3 linked regions of the Homo sapiens genome follow. The protein of the gene in region 1 purifies or fractionates together with the protein of each later gene. This does not show direct contact. Each region holds a gene or a part of one and is shown on either strand. Other genes may lie near its edges.

Evidence for each region.
Region 2: the proteins of ANXA6 (region 1) and ATF2 purify together in Homo sapiens (co-immunoprecipitation; one large-scale study listed by IntAct). This does not show direct contact.
Region 3: the proteins of ANXA6 (region 1) and CD9 purify together in Homo sapiens (co-immunoprecipitation; one study listed by IntAct). This does not show direct contact.

Annotation. Positions count from the first base shown.
Region 1 is NC_000005.10:151,102,980-151,105,922, forward strand, and holds part of ANXA6 (annexin A6), read right to left. Parts: intron 2,325-2,943; coding exon 2,266-2,324; intron 714-2,265; coding exon 591-713; intron 1-590. UniProt on the Homo sapiens protein: May associate with CD21. May regulate the release of Ca(2+) from intracellular stores.
Region 2 is NC_000002.12:175,077,653-175,081,308, forward strand, and holds part of ATF2 (cyclic AMP-dependent transcription factor ATF-2), read right to left. Parts: intron 3,114-3,656; coding exon 3,008-3,113; intron 1-3,007. UniProt on the Homo sapiens protein: Transcriptional activator which regulates the transcription of various genes, including those involved in anti-apoptosis, cell growth, and DNA damage response.
Region 3 is NC_000012.12:6,206,857-6,210,512, reverse strand, and holds part of CD9 (CD9 antigen), read right to left. Parts: intron 1-3,656. UniProt on the Homo sapiens protein: Integral membrane protein associated with integrins, which regulates different processes, such as sperm-egg fusion, platelet activation and aggregation, and cell adhesion.

The sequences.
Region 1 (2,943 bases):
ATGTAAGTTTTTCGTTTGTTTGTTTGTCTGTTTTTGAGATGGAGTCTTGCTCTGTTGCCCAGGCTGGAGTGCAGTGGCGTGATCTCAGCTCACTGCAACCTCTACCTCCTGGGTTCAAGCGATTCTCTTGCCTCAGCCTCCTGAGTAGCTGGGATTACAGGCATGAGCCAACACACCCAGCTAATTTTTGTATTTTTAGTAGAGACAGGGTTTCACCATGTTGGCCAGGCTGGTCTTGAACTCCTGACCTCAAGTGATCCACCTGCCTTGGCCTTCCAACGTGCTGTGATTACAGGTGTGAGCCACCATGCCTGCCCATGATATGTAAGTTATACTTCCATAACATTGCTTTAAAAAAAGCAAAAAATGGGCTCTTGTTTTATTTGGAAATCTTTAATTATAAACCTTTGATTCTTTTGGAATTGATTTCGGTATAAACAATGCAATACAGACCCCCTTTCATTTCAATATCCTGGCTGTTCTAAGCGGTAACCCACTGGAAAAAAGTCCATGGGAATAAAGACTTCTAATCTTATATTAGGGATCTGACACTCACCCGCTTCCTGCTAACCTCTAGCCCCTCCCCTTACCTCAATGGCTTGGTGGAGAGACTTGTCATATTTCTCAATGAATTCCCTCCGGATGTTGAGCAGGTCAATCTCACTGCGGGATACCATGATCCTGGTCAGAGTCTTCTCATCTGTGCCAGCACCCTGGTGGAGCCAGGCAGGAGGGAGACACAGGCGGAAGGAGAGATAGAGCCCAGTCAGGCAAGAAACAGTGGTATCCCATCTGCCTTTCTCCCTTGTTCCTTCCAAAAACAGGGCGGATGTTCCACCTCTGTCTTCTGCAAACAGTCCTGACCAAAATCCCTCTGTGCCCAGGACTGGCCAGACTGACACGCAAAAAAGATGTGTGTGGGTTGAATAGTGTCCCCATGTCCACCTGGAAACTCAGAACATGATGTAATTTGGAAATAAGGTATTTGCACATGTAATTAGTTAAGATGAAGGCATACTGAATTAGATTGAAGCCTAAACCAATAACCAATATCTTTAGAAGAGGGAGGGCACAGACATACACACAGAAAAGTGGCTAGGTGAGGACAGAGGCAGAGACCGGAGTGATGCATTCACAGCCAGGAAACACCAAGGACTTCTGGCAACCACCAGAAGCTAGGAGAGGCAGGGGAGTGCTTCTCCCCCAGAGCCTCCAGGAGGACCCAACCCAGGCGACACCTTGATTTTGGGCTTTTGGCCTCCAGAACTATGAGAATAAATTTCTTTTGTCACCCAATTTCTGGAATGTGTTACACCAGCCCTAGGAAACTACCACCGGGCCCAAGGAGCAGGCACAGGGCATGGAATGTGTGGGCAGCCAGAGCTGCCTCTGCCCCCAGGGAGCGACAAGCACCAGCCTAGGAGTCAGAGCTAGGTTCGAGTCCCAGCTCTGCCTCTTAGGAGCTATGTAAATGTGGGCAACGTTTTACCCTACCTAGGCCTGAGTTTCCTCCTCTATCAAATGAGGATGCTACCACAATTTCACAGGACTGCCATGAGGGTCAGCTGTGGTCAGAGAGATGAAGCCCTTGGCACAGGCTTGACACATCGTGAGTGCTCAATGAATGGCTGTCACATTTGGAGACTGTAGGGTGAGGGTCTCAGGTTCCTTCCTACCCTCCCACCTGCCCAGGCTATCTGCAGTTGAGACTCCAGTGGCTGAGAGGGTGGCCAGTGTGGCTTGGGCTCTCCCAGAAGGGCAGGACTAGACTCAGAGGGGAGCGCTTGTGACCTTTGATGACTATTTGTCCTAGGAGACCCTGTGTCCCCGGATAGATTGTGAGCTCTGAGAGGGCAGAGACTGTGTCCTACCCAGCCCTGTGTGCCTCCAGAGCACATTTCTCAACCTTGGCATTTGGGGCTGGATAATTCTTTGTTGCGCAAGCTTATCCTTTGCACTGAGGTTGTTTAACAGCATCCCTGTTCTGTCCCCACCAGATGCTGGTAGCAACAATCTCCAAGTTGTGATGACCAAAAATGTGTCTGGATATTGCCAAATATCCTCCGGGGCGGGGGAAGGCGGGGGAAATCACCCCCAACTGGGAAATACCATCCTAGAGCCAGACAAGGGCAGATGCTAATAAATGTCAAATGGGAAGAAACAGCTGCCAGGAATCCTGATCTGGGGGATGGTGCACATCTGTGTGTTTGTGTGTGTATGTAAGTCAGTGCTTGAAGGGAAAGGAACGCCAGCATGTTTTCTTACCTTCATGGATTTGTAAAGTTTGTCGGCAAAGAAGAGAGGCTTGTTCTTGACACTTTGAACTGGTAGGAAGAGCAGAGAGATGCGGGGAACGTGGTCAGAGGCTGTGAACCCAGACTCTGGACCGGCCTCCCCCATCTCCCCACCTCGTCTATCCCTGCATGGGTCTGCAGATCATTGTCAACCCCAGGGTCATGCTCAGACGACACCTTTGCTCCCCTTCCCCATGCTTCCTCCTCTGGCCCATCCTTAGGCCTGGCTCTCAATTGGTTGCAACTCTCTTCCTTCTAAGGTGCTTACAGCTAACCAAGGTCAGGAGAGGATTCAAAGGTAATTAACTCCTCATGAACCCAAGGCACGGGGCCTCAAATTTTTAAATGCATTGGAATCACCCAAAAAGCTTGTTTAAAACTCAGGGTTTAGGCTCCACCCTAAAGATTCAGATTTTGGAAAGATTTTGAGCAGTGGTTCTCAAAGTGTGGTTTCCGGACCAACAACATTAGCATCACTTGAAAACTTGGAAGAAAGGCAGATTCTCATGCCTCAGATTCCAGATTCCAGAGATGCTGAATCTGAAACTCTAGAGGTGAGTGACCAGCTTGTCCTAGTTTGCCTGGGACACTCCAGGTTTTATTAGGTTGGTGCCAAAGTAATTACAATTTTTGCCATCACTTTCAATGG
Region 2 (3,656 bases), on another chromosome or scaffold:
AATTATAAGGGATGAATGCTTACCTACAGACTTTCAGAATTAGGTAAAGCAAATCTTTAAGCAGTACAAAGAATCAGGTACTCACAATTATGTAATTATAAACCTTACATACACATCAAATACCTTTACAATGTGATATATTTGCACCTATGTCCAGTTCTAGGTGAGGGGAGAAAATGACTGGTGTAATCACAAGCACTAGAGAGATACAGAAAACCATGCTGTACTCAAAGAGCCACTTCCAGCTCTACCTAAGCTAAAAGAAACCAGCTGTTTGGCAATTCAGTAATCTTGAAAGTTCTCTACCTATGTCCACAAGTTTCTTTTCCTTATTTGAGATAGGGTCTCCCTGTCGCCCAGGCTGGAGTGCTATGGCACGATCACAGCTCACTGCAGCCTTGAACTCTTGGGCTCAAGTGATCCTCTTGCCTCAGCCTCCCAAGTAGCTGGGACTATAGGTGTGTGCCAAAATGCCTGGCTTTTTTAAACTTTATTTTTTGTAGAGATGGGGTCCCGCTATTTCACCCAGACTGGTCTTGAACTCATGGGTTCAAACAATCTTCCCGCCTTGGCCTCCCAAAGTGTTGGGCTTACAAGGGATGAGCCACAGTGCCTGGCCTATACATATTTTCAGTAATAAAAGTATTTGTGGTTGATTAGTCCCCAAGAAGCTTTTCTTCCCATTTATAATTATAGAGACAATTATAATACAACTTTAATTATGCCCAGATCTAAAGAATGTGAATTCATGGCAATAAGATCACTTTTGTGCTTTATTTTTCATGGAACCCAAATATTTAAAATGTACTCTTAGTATTTTCATTCAGGTTTTATATTACTTAACTGTTGGGGTGACTAACTGTCATGGTTTTCCCACGACTGAGGGGTCTTCTTAGGAAGTAGGACTTTCAGTGCTAAAACTGGGCGGGACAGACCCTATGGCTGTGACTTAGTACTTCCACCTTTACTTGAAAGATTTTGTAACATTCCTTAATTTCTACTAAATCTTAGTTTTGATTCCCAAATGTTTTTAAAGATTTAGCTAGTATTACAACTCACCACTGTTAGCAAGAGCTGTGTGCTACAACATAATGAAGAGTGTAAATTTTTCAAAGGTATTCACTTAGTCAATTTCTGTATCTATTTTTACTACTACACAACAGAGAAGTCAGACTTATTTCAAAGATTTCAAACTTGAAAATATAAATTACCTGAAAATTTCTACAAAATCCAATTATCTCCCAAGATCTGAAGAGAATTAATTTTATGGTAGAACTATATTTCAGTTAATTTGATTATCTACATGACTAGACAGGAATAAAGATAGGATTATTTCCAAACAACAAACATATCCTATTCATTTCTTATATTCTCATAACTTAGTACTCTATGTACTAAAAATGTATTAATCTAGATTTTCAGTCATTTAAGTATACAGTATATAAACCTACGCATCTATACACTTAAGATATCTTGTAAATCAATTGTCAAATGAATAACTGGTTTGCATCTGCTGAGCATACATTGCCTGGATAATAGAGTCAAAACTGTTGGGATTATCTAATAAATTATCAAAGATTTAAAAATTACAGGTAATTCTGAATTGGATACAATTTAAGAGAACAGTTAATTTCCTTTTAATTTTATAAAACAATTTATTTCCTTTTAAACTATGAAAATCCAAGAGAGATTTCTTGTTAAGAAAATCACGTATGCATAAATGCTGAACTAGTAGCTTCTATAGGAAATTATGTTGTTAAGTCAGATGGGAACCATAATGGCCTCATCCCTGAAGCAATCATTGTTAATATAAATCCCAAACATATTTCTATATGGTTCCAATTTACTCCAATGTGTTTCACCATCCTGTCAAAATTACTAGATATCAAATAAGCAAGATTTATATGCTCAAAACTGACAAAAATCAGCGTTCTAAATATATATGGCAATTGAGAGTAGCTAAATCTACGGAATCTTTTAAATTAAAAAATATTGCCCATTCTGATGAAACTGCTTATAATGACTACAAGTAAAGATGGTGGCCATTAAGTTTTATCGTGAGCACCTGAGGAACTGTTTGCATCCAATACAAAATGTTTCTTTCTTTTGAATTACTGACACTGGCAAATTAAAATGAAGTGGATACATATGGTTGAAACAATCTTCACATTTACTAATATCCTGAAATATCACTAAATCATAAAGACTAAAACTGTGGGTTATATATTATAAATGTTGCCTAATGCATTCCCAACTCTGTTGTTTGTTACAAATTTGTATACTATGGACAAAATTGGCCATTTATTCAAGAGTAACAGCTGGTTCCAACACTGTGCATCTTATCAAAAAAGAAGGACATTACAAAAAGGAAAAGGCACAATTAACCTTTAAAATGCTGAAAACAAAAGAATCTCATTCTTTGGGAAAACATTTAGCAGGAAATTTACAAGCAGATAATTTAACTACTGTTCCCGTTTTAACATTTTTATAAACTAACTAGATATCTCAATATAAAGGTTTACAACAATAAAAACGTTACACAATGCTGACATTATCTAAGAAAGAACAATAGGATCTGATACCTTAAAGGGATATCATATATTGTTAAAGGCAGTCAGCTGATTTTAAAAAGAAAAATATCATCATTAATGAACGGAGGCTGGGAAAAAAGTAGTGTTTCACCCTGTCAATCTAAGACAAAGTGTTATCCTGAGAAGATGAACAAAATATCATCAAGTACTTACAGTATATTTTAAATTATTAGCTAATCCATTTTGTTGATCTATAGTAACGCTTAGGAAAAAAGCTAGAAACAGGAAAACTCAAACTCTCTAGATTCTAAAAAATTATACCTCTCTACTGCATTCTATAATAACCTTACAGAAATTCTGATATTTAATCTTGAATATTAGAAGCACAGTCTCCATTTTTAAAGTAGCAGCTCAGTTCACTCTGACGGTATTTCACTGACGTAGCCTAAGGCTATAGGTAATGGAACATTACTCACTATGATAGCCAGATTTCTTCTGCATGGCGGTTACAGGGCAATCTTTATGAGCCAGAAGAAGCTGTTTCAGCTGTGCCACTTCATTTCTCAGCAGGGTGACTTCACTCTGGAGAAGAAACAACTTATGTACCTTACCACAGACTAAACATATTTTTTACTATTTAAAACAAGCAAGGATTAAAGTATAAAATTGGACATCACTGGCAGAACATTAAAAACAAAGAAAATATGCTGATTAAATATGTCTAATCAGCACAGGGCAGCTTTTATATTTTAGCATTTATTAAAAAGCTGTAACTTGAATAAAAATTTAAGATAATGCCACAGCTGGATAGCATATTTCAAAATTGTTTCCATTTCCCTGGGACTTCTTATATATTATTGGTGACCTGTTGAAAGTATTTTTATTTTATATATGTTGCATGCTCTTCTGATTATTTAAAAAGAAACATCAAGGGAGTCAGGATGAATTTTCACTGATTCCATTCACCTAAAAATGAAAAAAATCATCCTAGAAATTCAAATAAGCAAGTTTCCAGTTTCCTAGAAACCAAGAAAAGCTCCACAGGGGAAACCAAAATAACCAAAGAATCATGGATACCTAAAATTCACTGCAAGGCACTCTTGCTGGACACTGAAACCAATGAAA
Region 3 (3,656 bases), on another chromosome or scaffold:
ACCTGGCCTCGCTTGGGGGCAGTGGGGGTAGTGGGTGCTCGAAGAGAGTCTAAAAAAAACAGCCGGTGCTTCCTCTCCCTGGCCTTTGTCCTGAGAGCTTCAGCCACACCCTTGGTTCCACTGGTCATATAGTCAGGGTGGACAGAGGCGGCGCTCTGGGAAGGGACTCTCCAGGGCAACTCGCACATCCTCCTTTCCCCTTGGCTGCACTGTTGCAGCTGCCCATTGGCATTGTGTCCATAGACGGGACCGCAGCCCGTTCAGTGGCCATGGTCCTTCCATCCCCCGTGAAAACAGCCCCAGAGTGGGACCCGGAGCCTCTGCCCTTCCCCAGAACCACCCTGCCAGCAAAGGGCAGAACAAGATGACATCAGCACAGGCCTCTCTGTGTTATAGCCCTGGGCACGAGCTCTCAAGACACACCCCAGGGTCCTAGAGGAGAGTGCCAGCCTCCCATGACAAAGAAGGCCAAAGTGTCCCTCCTCATCCTAGAAGATAATCTAATTTCTATTTGAAATGAGCAGTCCCAGCTGGGCGCGGTGACTCACGCCTGTAATCCCAGCACTTTGGAAGGCCGAGGTGGGCGTATCACCTGAGGTCAGCAGTTCGAGACCAGCCTGGTCAACGTGGCAAAACCCCATCTCTACTAAAAACACAAAAATTAGCCGGGCATGGTGGTACATGCCTGTAATCCCAGCTACTCAAGAGGCTGAGGCATGAGAATCGCTTGAACCCAGGAGGCAGAGGTTGCAGTGAGCCGAGATTGTGCCACTACACTCCAGCCTGGGCAACAGAATGAGACTCCATCTCAGAAAAAAAAAAAAAAAAAAAAAGAAATTTGCAGTCTGGGTCTCTAAAGGGTTGTGTCTTAGGGAGCCAGGGCTACAATTTGACTAGAGAGGAGGAAAGGAGAGTATGAAGAGATTTTCTCAGGCTTGTAGACAGGAAGCTTTAAAACATCTGAGCTTAGCAATAATAAATTTAAATCCACAGTCCCACATTGTGAGAAAGAAGATGTTTACATTGCACCATGGAGAGCAGGAGGAATATGTCTTAGTGGGAAGGGCCTCCCGTCTCTAGGAACGGGGCCGCTGAGGGAGGTATGGATGACTCCCCACCCAGAAAACATCCAGTGGAGTTGGGCATAAATCTGGGGTGTGCATGCACACTACACACTGCAACTGCCCACCTACAAGGGAAGACATGATGTGGATTCAAACACCAGATTTCTATTGACTTGAAAAGCTACGACGAGCCCGGTGCGGTGGCTCACGCCTATAATCCCAGCACTTTGGGAGGCAGAGGTGGGTGGATCACCTGAGGTGAGACCAGCCTGGCCAACATGATGAAATCCCATCTCTACTAAAAATACAAAAATTAGCTGGGCGTGGTGGCATGTGCCTGTAGTCGCAGCTACTCAGGAGGCTGAGGCGGGAGAATCACTTGAACCTGGGAGGCAGAGGTTGCAGTATGCCAAGATTGCGCCACTGCACTCCAGCCTGGGTGACAGAGCGAGACTCTGTCTCAAAACAAACAACAAAAAAAGCAATGATGAGTTCACAAATAGTATGATTTTGCTGATCATTTCATTTAGAGTTTTAATAAATCAGTACACTGTATTATCATACTACATTCAATCAACTTAGGTTTAAAAGACATTAAACTACACACCTGTAATCCCAGCACTTTGGGAGGCTGAGGCGGGTGGATCACCTGAGGTCAGGAGTTCAAGACCGGCCTGATCAACATGGAGAAACCCCGTCTCTACTAAAAATTAGCCGGGCATGGTGGCACACCCCTGTAATCCCAACTACTCAGGAGGCTGAGGCAGGAGAATGGCTTGAACTCAGGAGGCGGAGGTTGCGGTGAGCTGCGATCGCACCATTACACTCCAGCCTGGGCAACAAGAGTGAAACTCCACCTCAAAAAAAAAAGAACAAAAACAAACAAACAAACAAAAAAAACTAAAATCCTTGAATAGGTTTTGAATTAATAAATTCATAATTAATAAAACTGCCTGATTAACTTTATGGTATTTTTAGCCTCAGTCGAGGTTCTTCTCCTATGACCCATGTATTGTGTTGTTTCTGAACTTGGAGACTAACACACAGCTTAGACTGGGAGTGTCAGCAAGGGACTGGCACCTGAAGCTGTGAAGCTCAGTTCCGAGGAGAGGGCTTGGCAGGAGCCACCAGCTGCTTAGCCTGCTCAGAGGTGTCACTGGAAACTTGGATGTGCATTGGGTAAGCTGTGAAGGGTTACTTTTCTTTTCTTTTTTTTTTTTTTTTGAGATGGAGTTTCACTCTTGTCGCCCAGGCTGGAGTGCAATGGCACGATTTCAGCTCACTGCAACCGCCGCCTCCCAGGTTCAAGCAATTCTCCTGCCTCAGCCTCCCAAGTAGCTGGGATTACAGGCACCTGCCACCATGACTGGCTAATTTTGCATTTTTAGTAGAGAGGGGGTTTTTCCATGTTGGCCAGGCTGGTCTCAAACTCCCAACCTCAGGTGATCCGCCTGTCTCGGCCTCCCAAAATGCTGGGATTATAGGCGTGAGCCACCGCGCCTGGCCTGAAGGGTTACTTTTCTAGCAGAGCTCATAAGAGCCACTATTTCTTCCCTCAGGCACAATGCCTGGCTTAAGGATTGAAGAGGAAGGGCTCTTAAGACCCGGGTTTCTGATTTTTCTCCAAGTCAGTAGTCCCCAAACTTCTCTCTACCGGGACCTCCTCTGGAATCACATTAATCCGGGCCCCTCTCCAAGTCAGGCTGCTTTGCCTTTCCCAGTTACTCAACCAGGCTGCTTCTCAACTCCTTGGGAGTGCAGCTCCCCAAATGATCCCTCCTGAGACATTCCTCCTTTCTGCAAGTCCTCAGAGGACGAGACTTTCCGTCTGCATTTGGAGGGAAGGAGAAGAGAGACAGACCTCCTTTCTTCCTGAACAAAGATGAAGCACCAAGCTCTGGGAAAAGCTAAGCCAAGAGGCCCAACCTGGCTGGAAGATCATACAGTTGCATTTTTCGTGTGTACTAGAAATACAGAGCACTCATTAAATTAACCGAGTGAAAACCACTCCTTAGGCAATGATTAAGCTGAGAGTCAGAGGGATGGGTGGGAGGCCAGCTGTCCCATCTGAGCTGCACTTGATCACTAGGGAATTTATCATTTCTAATGCCTTTCACAAAGTCCCCTGTGATGCCCCCATTGCAGCCCCCGGGGAACGGTGAGGCAACCTGCTTCTTATGGCAGAAATATGGGACTCAGGACAGAGCAGGGGTTGTCTGGAAACTGAGGGAGAAAAACCAATATGGGGCATTTATAGCGTGAGCTCAGGCTGGGCGTGGTGGCTCACATTTATGATCCCAGTGCTTTGGGAGTCCGAGGCTGAAGGACTGCTTGAGCCCAGGAGTTCAAGACCAGCTTGGGCGACATAGAGAGACCCTCTCTGTACAAAAAAATTAGCCGGGTATAGTGGTGTGTGCTGTAGTCCCAGCTACTTGAGAGGCTGAGGCCAGGATTGTGTAAAGCCCAGGAGTTTGAGGCTGCAGTGAACTATGATGGTGCCACTATACTGCAGCCTGGGCAATGGAGAAAAAGGCAAAAAAAAAAAAAATGTCTATGGGCCTCCAGAAACAGACATAACATTTTTCTGGAGGC